2 separate regions of the Homo sapiens genome follow, and region 1 is linked to region 2. A link means that fine-mapping ties the variant in region 2 to the expression of a gene that starts in the linked region. Tissue or cell type: whole blood. Region 2 holds a variant in brackets; the other region holds the start of a gene. All regions are shown on one strand. Distances are between the middles of the regions.

Region 1 (8,099 bases), 110 kb after region 2:
CTCACGCCTGTAATTCCAGCACTTCGGGAGGTCAAGGCAGGCTGATCACTTGAGCTCAGGAGTTTCAGACCAGCCTGGGCAACATAGTGAGACCCTGTCTCTGAAAAAAATATATAAAAATTAGCCGGGTAGTGGCATGTGTCTGCAGTCCCAGCTGCAGTGGGCTATGATTGCACCACTGCACTCTAGCCTGTTTTTTGAGAAGGAGTCTCGCTCTGTTGCCCAGGCTAGAGTGCAGTAGCGCGATCTCGGCTCACTGCAAGCTCCACCTCCCGGGTTCACGCTATTCTCCTGCCTCAGCCTCCAGAGTAGCTGGGACTACAGGCGCCCACCACCACGCCCAGCTAATTTTTTGTATTTTTAGTAGAGACAGGGTTTCGCCATGTTAGCCAGGATGGTCTCGATCTCCTGACCTTGTGATCTGCCCACCTCGGCCTCCCTAAGTGCTGCAATTACAGGCGTGAGCCACCGCGCCAAGCCCTCAAAATAATATCATCAGAAGATCCAGCAGGGCTTGGTCTGTAATCCTGCATGGCAACAAGAGACTGGAACTAGTGGCTGCTTCCTTTAGACAGGAAATGTGGCCTTCAGCTCACCACACTCCCCACCATCCCCTATTGTCTTACACTCTGCCCTACTTCACTCTATGCTATCTGCCTGAGCTCTGCAGGCTTTCAAGTTTGTGATTCCTGCTCCCTCATGTCCCCAAGCTGTTTGTGATACTTGCCTCTCCTAAAACCACCAAATAGCCCAAGGAGAATATAAAGAACCCTACTCTTATTTGAATCTGAATCCTGGGTTGCCATTTAATCTGATGTAACCTTGGGCAGTGACATCACCTTGCTCAAGTCTCAATGCCCTAAACTCTAAAATGAAGGTAATCATATCTGGTTTATAGGATTTTTGTGAGGACTAGGCTTTGCCTAATTAGCTCTTCTCCTTTGGATCTCACCCCTAGCACTGCTTCTTCAAAAAAACCTTTCCAGACCTCCCAAATAGATCAAATCCCTCTGACAGACATAGGTTCTCAGCACCATGTCTCTTCTTGGTGGCACCCATCTCCCTTAGAATTGTACTTGAGTTTGTGGATTACTTATTTAATTCCTGCCTCTCCCACCAGACTGAAAACTCAATAATGGGAGGGGAATCCTGCTTTTGCTCCCTACCTACCACCATATCTGGCATTAAATAGGTCCTCAATAAGTATTATTTAAAAAGAAAAATGAGCTGTGTAAGGATGCTGATACAACCCCTGGCATATACGAGGTACCCCACTGATTCTCTCTGCCCCACCCTCAGGTAATGCCTGTTATGTACATGGTACCCTAAGCTTCTGGGGCTAAAATTGGCTCAATTTTTAACATTTGGGAAACAAGTGATTAGGTTGTGTTTTCTAATAAGCTATCTACCTCCCAGAATAAGGATTTTTGTTTTGCCCACTGACATACATGTAGCCGAACTGGTGTCCAGGCCACTCGTCGCCTGAAAGCCAAAAACTCAAAAGACAAGCTTTGGTGAAAGCAAAGTTAGCTTTATTCGAGAAACCAGCAACCTGCAAAAGGCAGTGCACTAGCATTCAAAGACCACCTTTCTCAGTTGTGCCTCTAGATCCAGGGATTTTAAGGAAAATTAGGAGAAATAATGATCAAAACATTCTTGTGGGCCAGGAGCGGTGGCTCATACTTGTAACCCCAGCAATTTGGGAGGCCGAGGCAGGTGGATCACTTGAGGTCAGGAGTTCGAGACCATCCTGGCCAACATAGTCAAACATCATCTCTACTAAAAATACAAAAATTAGCCAGGTGCGGTGGCACACGCCTGTAGTCCCAGCTACTCAGGAGGCAGAGGCTACAGCGAACCAACATCACTGCACTCCAGCCTGGGAGACAGACCAAGACTGTCTCAAAAAACAAAACAAAGAAACATTCTTGTGAATCATGCGCAGTCTCAGATGGGCAGTTAGTCATTACTTTCTTGGTCAATGCCTTGTGACTAGACTGTGCAGGGGCCATCAGCCTGTTCCCAAAGCTGCGGGTCTGTGTGTTTTATCTGTTGAAGAAGGTCCTGTTTTTTTCTGTGGCTGTTTTTAGTGAATAGTTTACAAACTCAGGCAAAACAATAATTATACTCAAGCAAGCAAGCTTTTCTCTAACATAGAGTCAGTACTGCTGTTACCCGTTGCAGGGCCTAGGGGACTTAGCTGGACGCCTACCTGGCTTTTGTTACCCAATGCAATGCCTCCATGACATAGCTAAATTCCTACTCAGATTTAACTCTGCTTATTTTTAGAAAACAGGTTGTCTGTGGTCATAGGTTCCTTCTTAGCTTACTCGACCTCTGAAGAACCTCTAGCTTCATTCTAATCCAACTTCAGTACTAAATGACATTCCCACTGGTTGCCATGACAGTTGACAATCACCGTGATGACCCGAAGAGACCAAAAAAAGGACAAAAAAAGGGGCAGCTCCTTGATTCCAGGAAAATCTACCTCCCTTCCCAAGAAAAAACATGAATATTCCTCCTCTTGTTCTTAATTTTTATTTTTTTTAGAGACAGGGTCTTACCATGTTGCCCAAGCTGGTCTCCAATTCCTGGGCTCAAGCTTTCCTTCTGCCTCCTCGCCTTGCTCTTAATGCCCAGCCCCTTCATTAAGGACACCTGACGACTAAGCTCTGATTCTTTTGTTTTTTTTTTCTGTTTTGTTTTGTTTTTGACACAGAGTCTCACTTTGTCAACCAAGCTGGAGTGCAGTGGCACAATCTCAGCTCATTGCAACCTCCGCCTCCCGGGTTCAAGTTGAGTCTCATGCCTCAGCCTCCCAATCAGCTAGAATCACAGGCGTGTGCCACCATGCCCAGCTAATTTTTGTATTTTTAGTAGAGACGGGGTTTCGCCATGTTGGCCAGGCTGGTCTTAAACTTCTGACCTCAAGCGATCCACCTGCCTTGGCCTCCCAAAATGCTGGGATTATAGGCGTGAGCCACCACGACCAGCCTAAACTCTTGATTTTTTTAATCCTGCCCAAATTCCTATCTAAGGGATCTGGGGAGTCATGACCTACAAACCATAAATTCTCATCAGATGGGTTTTATTTAATCCTATATATGATGACTTACTTTCCATTCTGACTCTGGCATAACATTACGTGACAAAAAGAAAGTCAAAATATTTTACCCCAAAACATGTTTCCTTGCCCTATTTTGCAATTTCTTCCATAAAGGACAGCATTTTCCCCCAAAAGCTATCCTTTGTGGGGTAAAATGTGCATCTGTAAAGAACATCTATTAACATAGCTAGATGTTTTTCTTCCAGGCCCTCCCAATCCTAAACGGATTAACTAAAAGTCTAACACCTTTTGAAGATCTGAATAGGAAACATTTGTCATCTATTATCTCTAAGAGCAGCCACCATAAGACTTCAAAAGAACCTTAGTCTCCACTATCTTTTATCTTAACCTGAACACTTCCTTTCTATCAATCCCAGGTCTTCAGACAAACTCAACCAATTGTCAACTAGAAAATATTTAAATTTACCTATAGCCTGGAAGCCCCCACCCCCACCCCTTTGCGTTGTCCCGCCTTCCTGGACCAAACCAATGTATTTAATGTATTTGACTGATGTCTCATGCCAACCTAAAACATAAAACCAAGCTGCACCCCGACCACCTTGGGCACATGTTCTCAGGGCCTCGAGAGGGCTGTATCACAGGCTGTGGTTACTCGTATTTGGCTCACAATAAATCTCTTCAAATATTTTGCACGGTTTTACTTTTCGTCAACACTCCCTATTACCTGTAACTTCTCAGTTTCCAAGAGCTGAGAGCTTGATTTGCGAGCTACCCTCCCACTTCTCCAATTCCATGGCCACTGAATGAAGGCTGCACTGCCTGATACTCACACTTGGTCTCATGCGCTGGCTCTGCAACAACGGACAGACAAGAGTTCCTTTGGGGGAAACCAGCTTCCCAGGTGACACTGTTGCCTCTGCTACATGCGCAAAGCGCAGCCTGGCACATAGTAGGTGCTCAAGAGAGGGAAAGCCGGGTCTATGAATTCAGGGACAGGGGCAGCACCAGAAGAGAGCAAGCTGGGGCCTGGCTGGCTGAACCCTGGCCCCGAGACCCCTGTGACCCCCCTTCTCATCAGGATGCACCACATGAACCTCCCCAACGCGAGGGCCAACAAGTGGCCCCAGATGAGACCGCGCCGGGAAGGGCCTGGGGCCACGCACAGATACTTCCGCCAGAAAAACACCACGCCGCGCCGTGCACCTCCGCCAGAGGAAGAAGGTCCCGCAGGGTCGGGGTAACCGCTCCATCCCCGACCGCAACCCTGGACCAGGTACAAGGAACAGATCCCTCCACCGGAACGCCGTGTCCCTCCGCCAGACACAGGAGTCCCCGCTCCCGTGCTCTCCTTCCCCGGCAGCCAGGCCCCGGTGCCGACTCCTCCGCCTCAGGGAGGCCCCGCCGCCGCCTAGATTCTCCGCCTGAAGCGGGACTCGCGACGGCAGGTTCCCTAGAATCCCTCTGTGTCCCTCCGCCCCGGGGAGGACCCTCCGCGCCCCTCTACAATCTTAAAGTCCCTCAGCGACGAGTCACCGCGCCGCGCGCTCTCGCGAGAGTCCACCGCACGGCCCCCCCCCCCTCCCCCAGCCCCTCGCCCGCCAGGACGCCTCGCGCGGGCCCCGCGGCGCTCGGTGGCAGGCGGCGCATGCGTGACTGCGGTTCCCAGCGCCCCCCGCGCTCTCCGCGGGCCGAGTGGACGAGGCCGAACGCGAGCAGCCTGCCGCTGCCCCCTGCGAGCCCTGGCTTCGCCCCGCAGCTCTTCTCCCTTCCGGGCGGAACAGTTTTTGCGGCCTTTCCTCGGCGGCAGCGGTTTCCTCAGGACGGTCGGGGCCGTCGTGGGCCCGAAAGAGCCCGGCGCCGCTCTCGGAATCCGGCGGCCCCAGCGGCACCCGCGGCGGCCTGGACGTGCTGCGGTGACCCGAGCCCGGAACCTGGCGCCGGGCGGGGCCTGCACATCCGGCCCCACCCACTCGGGGACTCGCCTCTCCGCGCCCGACCCGGGAGTAGCGGACACACCCCCTCCCGGCCCGGCTGTCCGCCTCCGCCCAGCCTTTCCTCAGCCTGCTTCATTTTTCTCCCAGTCGTCCAGCCTCCCGGTTTCCGACTTTGCACTAAGAGGGATGCACTCTGGAAAACCACATTGCGCGGTCACATCTTGTTTGGAGAAGAGGCCAGGCTTTTGCATCTTAGAGTATACGTTCACCTTTTCAAGGGCCTGGCATAGATTTGATTAATCAGCCTGGAATACCCTGTTCCTGCCGACCTGGCCGTTTTTACCTCCGTACCTTATCACACTCCCAGGAACATTAAGCAGGGAGCGCTTGGAGTCTTCTTTGGGTCCCCACCTTGAGCTAGACGTGAAGTTGACCCCTGGGCTGCAGCATGGCTGTCGCCCTCGACTCTCAGATCGACGCGCCCCTGGAGGTTGAGGGATGCCTAATAATGAAGGTGGAAAAGGACCCTGAGTGGGCATCAGAGCCCATTCTGGAAGGATCGGATAGCTCTGAGACCTTCCGCAAATGCTTCAGGCAATTCTGTTATGAGGATGTGACTGGACCCCATGAAGCTTTCAGTAAACTCTGGGAACTTTGCTGCCGGTGGCTGAAGCCAGAAATGCGTTCCAAGGAGCAAATACTTGAGCTGCTGGTGATTGAGCAGTTTCTCACCATTTTACCCGAGAAGATTCAGGCTTGGGCACAGAAGCAGTGTCCGCAAAGTGGAGAGGAAGCGGTGGCCCTGGTAGTGCATTTGGAGAAAGAGACTGGAAGACTAAGACAGCAGGTGAGAGAGGATTTTCCAAATTTTTGTACTTAGAAAAAAGGGAATGGGAAAGGCATGTGGGCAGGGATGTATTGCAGAAAGACGTGCTCTTCAGAGAAAGATAAATGGTACTAATAAAAGACCCTATAAGGGGGTCTTTTCACTTTAAGTGAATCCACTTAAAAGGGGATCAGAATTTCACATGAAATAGAAAAATAAAAGCTTTGATTGAAATATTATCTTACAATGGAAACCAGACATTATTCACCTAAGCATTTATCGTCATCTTTGGCATAATGTTTGCAACAAAACAATATAAGAGAACAATATGGTTTTGCGTCACAGAGGTTCACTTACGCATTTTGATCAAAAAAGGCTATTCTGTTCCCCCTTTAAAAAAAAAAAAAAAAGACTTCATCCGTTATCCCAGAGCCGTCTCCAAGCGTTTTACTGTTGCACTCAGTGTCTTCTGAAGTGCTCTCATGCCTTCATTTCTGTCACTCTCCTCCAGTCTAACTGCCACATCTTCATTTCTCAGTGGCTTGCATGCTCTTCTAGTTGTTCTTCAACCTCACTTTCATGAACCTCGTGAAATCCTGCAGCATTTGCAAGATTTGCGGTTTCACCTTGCATCAGACTTGCATTGTGTAGAGATCTATCAGCAGGTTGCTGTATTGGTCAGGGATAGACAGATAGATGTGGATATTAATTTTGTAAGTTTTCATTTCACTACTGTATATATTCATGTCCTGGTAACTTCTTTGCGAACGTAACAGATATAGAGTCAAATAATATCTATTCTAGCAACAAGGAGGCTCTTTCACTCCTGACAGATTTCCTTCTCTGTTTAGTATTAAATATTATTCTGGCCAGGCGCGGTGGCTCACATCTGTAATCCCAGCACTTTGGGAGGCCGAGGCATGTTGATCACCTGAGGTCAGGAATTCGAGACCAGCCTGACCAACATAATGAAACCCCATCTCTACTAAAAAAATATAAAATTAGCCGGTTGTGTTGGTGCATGCCTGTAATCCCAGCTACTTGGGAGGCTGAGAGAGGAGAATCGCTTGAACCTGGGAGGTGGAGGTTGCAGTGAGCCAAGATCGTGCCATTGCACTCCAGCCTGGGCAACAAAAGTGAAACTCTGTCTCAGAAAAAAGAACACTGTTCTGTTACCTTACACCCAGACTGCTGGACAGTACTCTCAGCCCAGCGCTCTCAGAGACTCCACTGGGAATGGAGTGGAATTTTCATTCCTTCTCATGTCTCTGTCCTTCTTTGATGTCTTTCCTGGGAGAATTTCGCCCTGATATGGGCCTGTTTTACTCCCTCTTATGGTATTGACTTCATTTCTCAGGTCAGCAGTCCCGTGCACCGGGAGAAGCACTCCCCACTTGGAGCAGCGTGGGAGGTGGCAGACTTCCAGCCAGAGCAGGTGGAGACCCAACCCAGGGCGGTGTCTCGGGAGGAACCTGGAAGCCTCCACTCAGGACACCAGGAACAGCTGAACCGAAAGCGAGAACGTCGGCCCTTACCCAAGAATGGTAAGAGGGAAGACTCGGAGCACGCCTAGTGCAGAGGCTGGGGCAGATTTCCGCAGTACCCCAACGCTGTGAATGTGCAGTGGAGGGCCTCCTTGATACATATTCAGAATAGGAGAAAGGTTTCATTCACTTCAAGAATTAGGAACATGTGCAATATAAGTGAAAAGGTATCATAAAGATGGAAACTGAGTCTGGGCAACATGGGAAAACCCAGTCTCTACAAAATCGCAAAAAAAAAAAAAATATTAGCCAGGTGTGTTGGCGTGCACCTGTGGTCTCAGCTACTCAGGAGGCTGAGTCAGGAGGATTGCTTGAACCCAGGAGGTTGAGGCTGCAGTAAGCCGTGATCACACCACTGTATTCCAGCCTGGGTGACAGAGCGAGACCCTGTCTCAAAAAAAAAAAAAAAAAGATCCAAACTGGGGAAACTTAGATTGCCTGGGCCAGCTATGAGATCCTGTGGTGGTAAACTCTCCATGGCTGGACACAGTGACTCACGTCGTAATCCCAACACTTTGGGAGGCCGAGGCAGGCGGATCTCTTGAAGCCAGGAGTTCAAGACCAGCCTGGGCAAGATAGCGAGACAAACACATTTTCTCTACAAAAAAATAAAATAAGATCTACATTCTACAATCATCATGTGTTTTTCAGTCCTGCCATGTGTATGTGCTCTTGGCTGACTATAAATAAGTCAAAAAGCTGTTTGAAAGGGAACAAGGCATTTGTGT
Region 2 (8,105 bases):
GAAGATGTAGCAGTCACTAAAGAGTATTTTGAATAACAGATGCTAGCCAGACTGCAGAGAAAAGGGAACGCTCATACACTGTTGGTGGGAATGTAAATTAGTTCAACCACTGTAGAAACCAGTCTGGAGATTTCTCAAAGAACTAAAAATAGAATTACCACTCAACCAAGCAGTCACACTATAGGTATATACCCAAAGGAAAATAAATCATTCTACCAAAAAGATAACTGCACTTGTATGTTCATTGCAGCACTATTCACAATAGCGAGGACATGGAATCAACCTAGGTGCCTACCAACAATGGGTTGGATAAAGAAAATGTGGTACATTTACACTATGGAATACTACACAGCCATAAAAAAAGATTGAAGTCTTATTGATGCAGTATCTTTTGCTCCTTAGTTCAGCTAAAATCTGGGTTCTTGTCACACAACCAGGAAACATTAGGCACGCAGACACATTGAAAGGTGAGGAGAGTGGAAGTTATTTTTATTTTATTTTATTCATTATTATTATTTTTTTTTTTTGGAGATGGAGTTTTGCTCTTGTTGCCCAGGTTGGAGTGCAATGGCGCAATCTCGGCTCACTGCAACCTCCACTTTCCGGGCTCAAGCGATTATCCTGCTTCAGCCTCCCAAGTAGCTGGGATTACAGGTACCCACCACCATGCCCAGCTAATTTTTTTTTGTATTTTTTAGTAGAGACGAGGTTTCACCATGTTGGGCAGGCTGATCTCAAACTCCTGACCTCAGGTGATCCACCCGCCTCGGCCTCCCGAAGTGCTGGGATTATAGGTGTGAGCCACTGCACCCGGTCAAGAGTGGAATTTATTTAAAAAAATCTCCCAGTGAAAAAAAGAAGAGGTCCTGCCAACAGGCTCCCACCTCACAGATTAAATACCAGGCCACCACACACAGGAGCTGAAGAGGCCAGGCTCCTCCCTCCTGCATAAGGTGCAAATCCCCAGTGGCTCCACCCCATTCTCCCAGTGTGCAGGCCGGCCCCCAGTCCATGGTGGGCACGTCCACAGAAAGCCCTGAGCAAGTTCGCTCATCTGCACATAAGCATCTGATGTAAACACTTGTAGGGCGGGTCAGAGATTCTCCCGGGGCCCTCCCTTATCTGCCTCCTGCTTCTATCAATATCATTTGCAGTAACATGGATGCTGCTGGAGGCCATTATGCTAAGTGAATTAATGCAGGAATAGAAAACCAAATACTGCATGTTCTCATTTATAAGTGGAAGCTAAACATTGGCTACACATGGACATACAGATGGGAGTGACACACACTGGGGACTAACAGAGGGAGAAAGGACTCATGGGGCAAGTGTTGAAAAACTACCTATTGGGTGCTATGCTCACTACCTGGGTGAAAAGATCATTTATAGCCCAAACTTCAGCATTACGCAATATACCCAACAAAGCTGCACATATACCCTGAGTCTTAAAAAAAAGTTGAAATTTAAAAAAAAAAAAAAAGAGTATGCACCTCTAATCTTAGCTATATGGGAGGCTGAGTGGGGAGGATCACTTGAGGCCAGGGGTTTGAGAGCAGCCTGGGCGACGTAGTGAGACTCTATCTCTACAAAAAAATTTAAAAATTAGGTGGCTGCAGTGAGCCATAATTGCACTACTGCACTCCAGCCTGGGTGACAGGGCAAGACCCTGTCTCAAAAATATATATGTAAAGAAGATAAATAGATAAAATTTAATTTTTTTTTTTTTGAGACAGAATCTCACTCTTTTGCCAGACTGGAGTGCAGTGGCACGATCTCAGCTCACTGCAACCTCCACCTCCCGGTTCAAGCAATTCTCCTGCCTCAGCCTCCTGAGTAGCTAGGACTACAGGTGCATGCCACCATGCCCAGCTAATTTTTTTTTTTTTTTTTTTGAGACAGAGTCTTGCTCTGTCGCCCAGGCTGGAGTGCAGTGGCGCAACCTCGGCTCACTGCAAGCTCTGCCCTCAAGGTTCACACCATTCTTCTGCCTCAGCCTCCCAAGTAGCTGAGACAACAGGCGCCCACCACCACGCCCGGCTAATTTTTTTGCATTTTTAGTAGACATGAGGTTTCACCGTGTTAGCCAGGATGGTCTCGATCTCCTGACTTCGTGATCCACCCGCCTTGGCTTCCCAAAGTGCTGGGATTATAATTTTTGTATTTTTAGTAGAGATGGGATTTCACCATGTTGGCCAGGATGGTCTCAAACTCCTGAGCTCAAGGCAATCCACCCACCTCGGCCTCCCAAAGTGCAGGGATTGCAGACATGAGCCACCACGCCCAGCCTATACTCTTTTTTTTTTTTTTTTTTAAACCATGGATCTTAGCAAAAAGCCATAAATTTAAATTTAAAAAGTGCATCCACTGCATGCAATAGCCTGTGTTGAGGCAAATTTCCCTTGCTTTCCCAACCTGGCTTCACCCCCGATCACTGAGAGAATGAACCCCTGTTGACCCCAAGAAAAATATAAATATCTCTGTGACATTGTGATATAATAAGAAATGTGTTTCCCCACATCGTCCTTAGTCTTCAAGGGCTAGTCCTCATGTAGAACTTTTCAGAGTTCCCAGCCAGCCATCCGTGTGCAGAAAATTCAGGGACATTAGTCATGCCCTTTCCTCCTGCTGTGGATTCTAACCTATTTGAGGGAAACATTCAAAGAGCCAGAGGAGGATCAACTGCAGAATTAGTTTTCCTTATGAAGCTCAATTGGAGAGCATCGCATGGCTCCCCTTACAAATCTAGACTTTCAGACCAGCATGACCCAGATTTCCCCACCCAGTTACAGGTTGAAAAGCTGTAAACACAGAAGAGTGTGTGAAAAGGCAAACACAGAAGAGTCTGCCTGGTCTCTACAAGAAGAAGGAAATGCCAGTCCTCGTTGTACCTGGGAGCAGATCGGTCCACAAGAGGAAGGACGGCAGATACAAAGAAGCACAGAGAAAGACAGGAAGGGAGGAAGAGAGGGAGAGGTGGAGGAAGGATGACCACAGACAGAGGGAGAGGGAAAAGTGTAACAGTTGCCTCTGGATCACCCAATGAGGAAGTAAGCCATGCCTTGCCCAAATGCATAAACTTCCTCCCCACACTGCAAAGAAAACAGAAGCATTAGCAGAACTACCTCCCTCTACGGACCTAAGTGGGGACTACAGAAATTAAGAACTGTACCCACTTGTAACCTGCTTCTAGTTTCTTTTAGACCTTGAGCCTATGCTAATCAGGATGCCTCCTCTAGATGCTAAAAGGCATTCATTCCCAACATTAATGGAAGGCTTCACATACAGGGAATATATTTGCAGACTTTTGTAATGCCAAGAAACCTAGGTGTGAGTTTCCCAGCTAACTTCTTTTCCCCATGCCACTCCTGCATTTTTGAAAAATGATGCACGTTCCCCTCTTGGGAAATTCCAAGTCTACCTGGGCATCTCCAGGCATGTGTACCCACCTGCTTCTAACT[C/A]CGAGTACCAAAGGCTGCCTCTGAAAACTAATTATTGACTGCATGCCTGTTCATGGGATAAGTTTGTCACAGCTGCTAAAACACTTGCATTCTCAACACGGCCTTGGTGCCTTTGGGAAGCCTGACCACAAAACGAGTTGATTTTAACAGCATCTTGCAGGGAATACACCTATTTTTAGCAATTATCTTTGGAGTCACGGAAATAAAAGCTTCTGAAAATTAATGATTCTTACCAAGGTGTTGGCTTCTTGATATGCAGAGCTGAACTGCACAAGATTAAAGAAAAGCCAGGCAGATGGTGTTAAGGGAAGAGCGTTTTTTTTTTTTTTTCTAGGAAGAGAATATAGAAAAGAAATGGTGTCAGATAAAGGAAAGAGCTATGGACACAGAGTCAAGAAATATGAGTCAAATTCTACGTGGCCATAGGTAAATAGCCTAGAGCTTCTCTCTAACTCTTAATGTAGCCATTTTTAAGTAAAGAAAGTGTAAGTCAGGGGAAAAATGAGGTTTTGTGTTTTTTTTAAGCTAACCTCAGGAGTTCTCTCAAGAAGTGAATTGACCTATTCTTTCATGAGAATATACTTAATAGATATTTTTGCTTATGAACTGAGCCATTCTAAACAAAGCCAGGTTACTCTAGGGTAAGAAAAAAACAGATAATTAACTGGTTTGTATAAGAAATAAACAGAAGTCTGGGCGCAGTGGCTCACGCCTGTAATCCCAGCACTTTGGGAGGCTGAGGCAGGCAGATCACAAGGTCAGGAGATCAAGACCATCCTGGCTAACATGGTGAAACCCCATCTCTACTAAAAATACAAAAAATTAGCCAGGCGTGGTGGCGGGCATCTGTAGTCCCAGCTACTCGGGAGGCTGAGGCAGGAGAATGGCGTGAACCTGTGGGAGGCGGAGCTTGTAGTGAGCCAAGATGGTGCCACTGCACTCCAGCCTGGGTGACAGAGCGAGACTCCATCTCAAAAAAAAAAAAAAGGAAAAAAAGAAATAAACAGGAATCTAGTGGGGAGAGGGGAGAAATTCCAGGAGAGGGGAAAGGATTTCAAGTAGGGCAGGGAAACAAAGCTAAAAAATAAGAGCTAGCCAGGAGTTTAAGACCAGCCTGGGTGACATAGCGAGACCCTGTCTCTACAAAAAAAATTAAAAAGTATAGGTTGGTGCAAAAGCAATTGCAGTAAAAGTAAATGTAGATTGAAAGCAATGACAAAAACCGTGATTATTTTTGCATTAACCTAATAGCCAGGCATGGCACTGTGCACCTGTAGTTCCAGCTACTCAGGAGGCTGAGGCAGGAGGCTCACTTGACCCCAGGTGGCCAAGGCTACAGTGAGCTATAATTATGCCTCTGCACTCCAGCCTGGGTGACACAATGAGATTTCATCTCGAAAAAGAAAAGAAAAGAAGAGATGACTCATAAAATGTGAATAGAGATGATGTCTGTCACTTCCAGGACAAAGCAGTGGAAAGGGCATGCACACTTCCCTTCCGTCTTCAGCACTGAGAAGGCTTCATGTTCCCTCTGGAACCTATAAGAACATAGGGCACCATTAGCCTGGGTCCCTGAGTGACCATGTGGGGCTGACCTCTCACTATTGCTTACATGGCAGCAATAAATATTCGTTAGTTTAAGCTAGGTTAACTAGATTATATGTCATCACAGACACCCTCTACATCTTAGGGGGTGTCTGTGATGGCATATAACCTAGTTTCTTCTGGGTCTCCTTTCCTGCTTTATGGTCTCTAAGAACCTCTTGAAAAATTGGATTTCCTACTGCATATGAGGTAGAAGTGTGTCCTAGTTCCACTCCACACTCTTCACAGCTCTGTTCTGTGTCCAGGAGGATAATTAGCTCCACAGATTGAATCACCAGACATCCCTCGCCCTCTGCCTGCTGGATAGGAGCAGTCAATGGGAGGCAGCAGCAAGAGCTCAGAGGGTGGGGTATTTAGTCCTGGCCCCCAATAGAGCCCTGAATCCACCTACTGCCACCACTCCTAGCTGGCTGGCCCTCTTCCATGTCTACAGCTGTTTCAGTTTCCAATAACACTGCTAGTCTCTCCCTTCCCTTCTTCTTCGTGCCTGAGGCTGGTCACAGCTCCCTGCTGGTGCTATTTCCATGTGCTTCACCAACTCCTACTGGCTCCTTAGTCCTTGAGCCTATACTACTTGGGATGCTTCCTCTAGATACTAAAAGGCATTTCCAACATTCATTGAAGGCTTTACATACAGAGAACATATGTGCAGACTTTTGGAATGCCAAGAAACCCAGGTGTGAGTTTCCCAGTTAACCTCTATAGAGTATGCCATTCTTTCCTCCTGGGACTCTGATGTTTACAAAGCTAACACAAATTTTATTTAAATTATATGAAAAAAATGCTCAACATCACTAATCATCAAAGAAATGCAAATTAAAACGACCGTGAGATACCATCTTACACCAGTCAAAATGGCTGTTATTAAAATGTCAAAGAACAAGAGATGCTGAGGAGGCTGCAGAGAAAAGAAAACACATATACACTGTTGGTGGGAATGTAAATTAGTGCAACCTTTATGAAAAACAGTATGGAGATTTCTCAAAAAACTAAAAATAGAGCTACCCTTTGACCCAGCAATGCCACTACTGGGTATCTACCCAAAGGAAAAGGAATCATTTAATCAAAAAGGTATCTGCACTCATATGTTCATCGCAGCACTATAAGCAATGGCAAAGTCATGAAATCAACCTAAGTGTTCATCAACAGATGACTGTATTAAAGCCAATCATCTATTGACCATGGAATATTACTCAGCCATAAAAAAGAATGAAATTATGTGTTTTGCAGCAATATGGATGGAACTGGAGATCATTATCCTAAGTGAAGTAACTTAGAAACAGAAAGTCAAATACTGCATGTTCTCACTTATAAGTCAGAGCTAAACAATGGGCACACAGGAACATAAAGATGGAAATAATAGACATTGAGGAATCCAAAAGGTAGGTGGATGGGAACGGGGTACTATGGTACTACCTATCGGGTACGATGTACAGTATATAGTTGATGGGTACAGTAAAATCCCAGACTTTACCACTACACAATATATCCATGTAACATAACTACACTTGTACCCCTAAATTCATAACAATTTAAAAAATTAATTAAAAATAAAAATAAATTTTAAAGGCCAAGATGACCCCAGTATGACAAAGATCCTAGGAACACCCAGGCTGTTAACATCTGGAATACTGTACAAATAAATACTTTTAAAAACTGTCATAAGAGAGCCTGGAACATAGGAAGTATGCTACACATATGAATCTGAACCTGAAAGAAATAAAGCTTTTATTTCAATGAGATGTTCTGGAATTGTACATCTGTCCATTTACACTATCTATGGTTGAATTCAACCATAAGTCAAGGACACTGACATACATCTTGAAATACATATTAATATCTTACAGATTTCATCCTGGCTATAACAGAGGTTTCTCAGGATAGGGTTGGAGGGAGCTTGAGCATTCTTTTTATTTCCCATCTAAGGTCCCATAAACCAACAAAGCAATGCCTATCAGGGCCACTCCCTCCCAGCTTCCTGCAGAAGCCTCACCTGCAATCTGAGATCTTTTTTTCCTTCTTCACCTCTTCCCCTCTGAGATATTGAGTCGGGCACCTACACTATGCCAGCATCACCAAATAAAAGTGGCAATGCAAAACACTGGGTAAGATTCCAAATCCTGTTTAATGAGGTAAGAACAGAATGGAGGATCTTATTATGATCAAGTTAACACAAAAAGTGATGCCAAATACTGATGCAGTGACTCGAACAGCAGTCCACAGGAAAACAGGAAACTGATGCTAAGTGGGTGACAATGAGGTATGCCAACACGAAGCAACTCCAGAGTGCACCATTTAAATAGAATACAAGGTGAGTGGTGCAATGCACTTTACTCGTTCATCCAGAGTCTCAAAGCCAGAGAAGGTGAATTCTTGCTGTTGTTTGGAAGGCCCTCACGGCTACCCACTATTTTTCACATTCATTTCCCTGTTTGTGTTGGCTGGCTGAGCCAGGCTTGTGAAAGGTGGGATCCTCTGCTCTAAGTGGAGGATTCTGAGAGGAGCTGCCAACCTTCAGACAGACCATCAGATCAGAACACTTTGCTCAACCCTGCAGCTCCTAATATGGCCAAACAAAGGGAAAAGTCTTCTCCTTATGGAGATAAAGGGCTTTCTGGTGGAATTTAACAAATATACAATGTAATGCCTGGAAGAATCCAGAGCTCTCTTTGAACCCTGGAGTCAGACTGTTAACCAGCTATTGAGCATCCAGAGATAAAACAGCATAGTGACTAGAAGCGTGGACTCTGGAACTCAAGTGCCTGGGTCTCAATCCTGAGTCTGTCACTCACTAGCTGGGTGATCTTCGGAGAAGTCACTACACTCCCATGTTGTTACTAGGGATCCCAGTTATATCAAAAGGTGAGCTCTTTCCTGATTGACGTCATGAAGCCAATATATGAAACCAGAAGTGAGGCCAGGCACAGTGGCTCACACCTATAATCCCAGCACTTTGGGTGGCCGAGGCAGGTGGATCACCTGAGGTCAGGAGATCAATACCAGCCTGACCAACATGGCAAAAACCCCATCTGTACTAAAAAT

The links. PIP is the estimated chance that this variant, and not a neighbour inherited with it, causes the effect.
Region 1: ZKSCAN2 starts here. The variant in region 2 is fine-mapped to the expression of ZKSCAN2 in whole blood (TOPMed, PIP above 0.99). The same link has a PIP of 0.9 or more in tibial nerve.

What each region holds. Positions count from the first base shown.
Region 1 is chr16:25,254,478-25,262,576 of GRCh38, reverse strand. It overlaps ZKSCAN2 (zinc finger with KRAB and SCAN domains 2), which reads left to right and starts at 4,732. Exons shown (of 7, transcript NM_001012981.5): 1 at 4,732-5,848; 2 at 7,185-7,371. The coding sequence starts at 5,450. It overlaps ZKSCAN2-DT (ZKSCAN2 divergent transcript), which reads right to left and starts at 5,000. Exons shown (of 1, transcript NR_170220.1): 1 at 1,511-5,000. RefSeq lists enhancers at 3,871-3,950, 4,071-4,390, 4,806-5,366 and silencers at 4,601-4,800, 4,881-5,120.
Region 2 is chr16:25,361,282-25,369,386 of GRCh38, reverse strand. No RefSeq gene overlaps it. Among named protein-coding and RNA genes, the nearest start is that of LINC02191, 68 kb to the left of the region's middle. The variant C/A (reference allele first, on the strand shown) is at 3,459.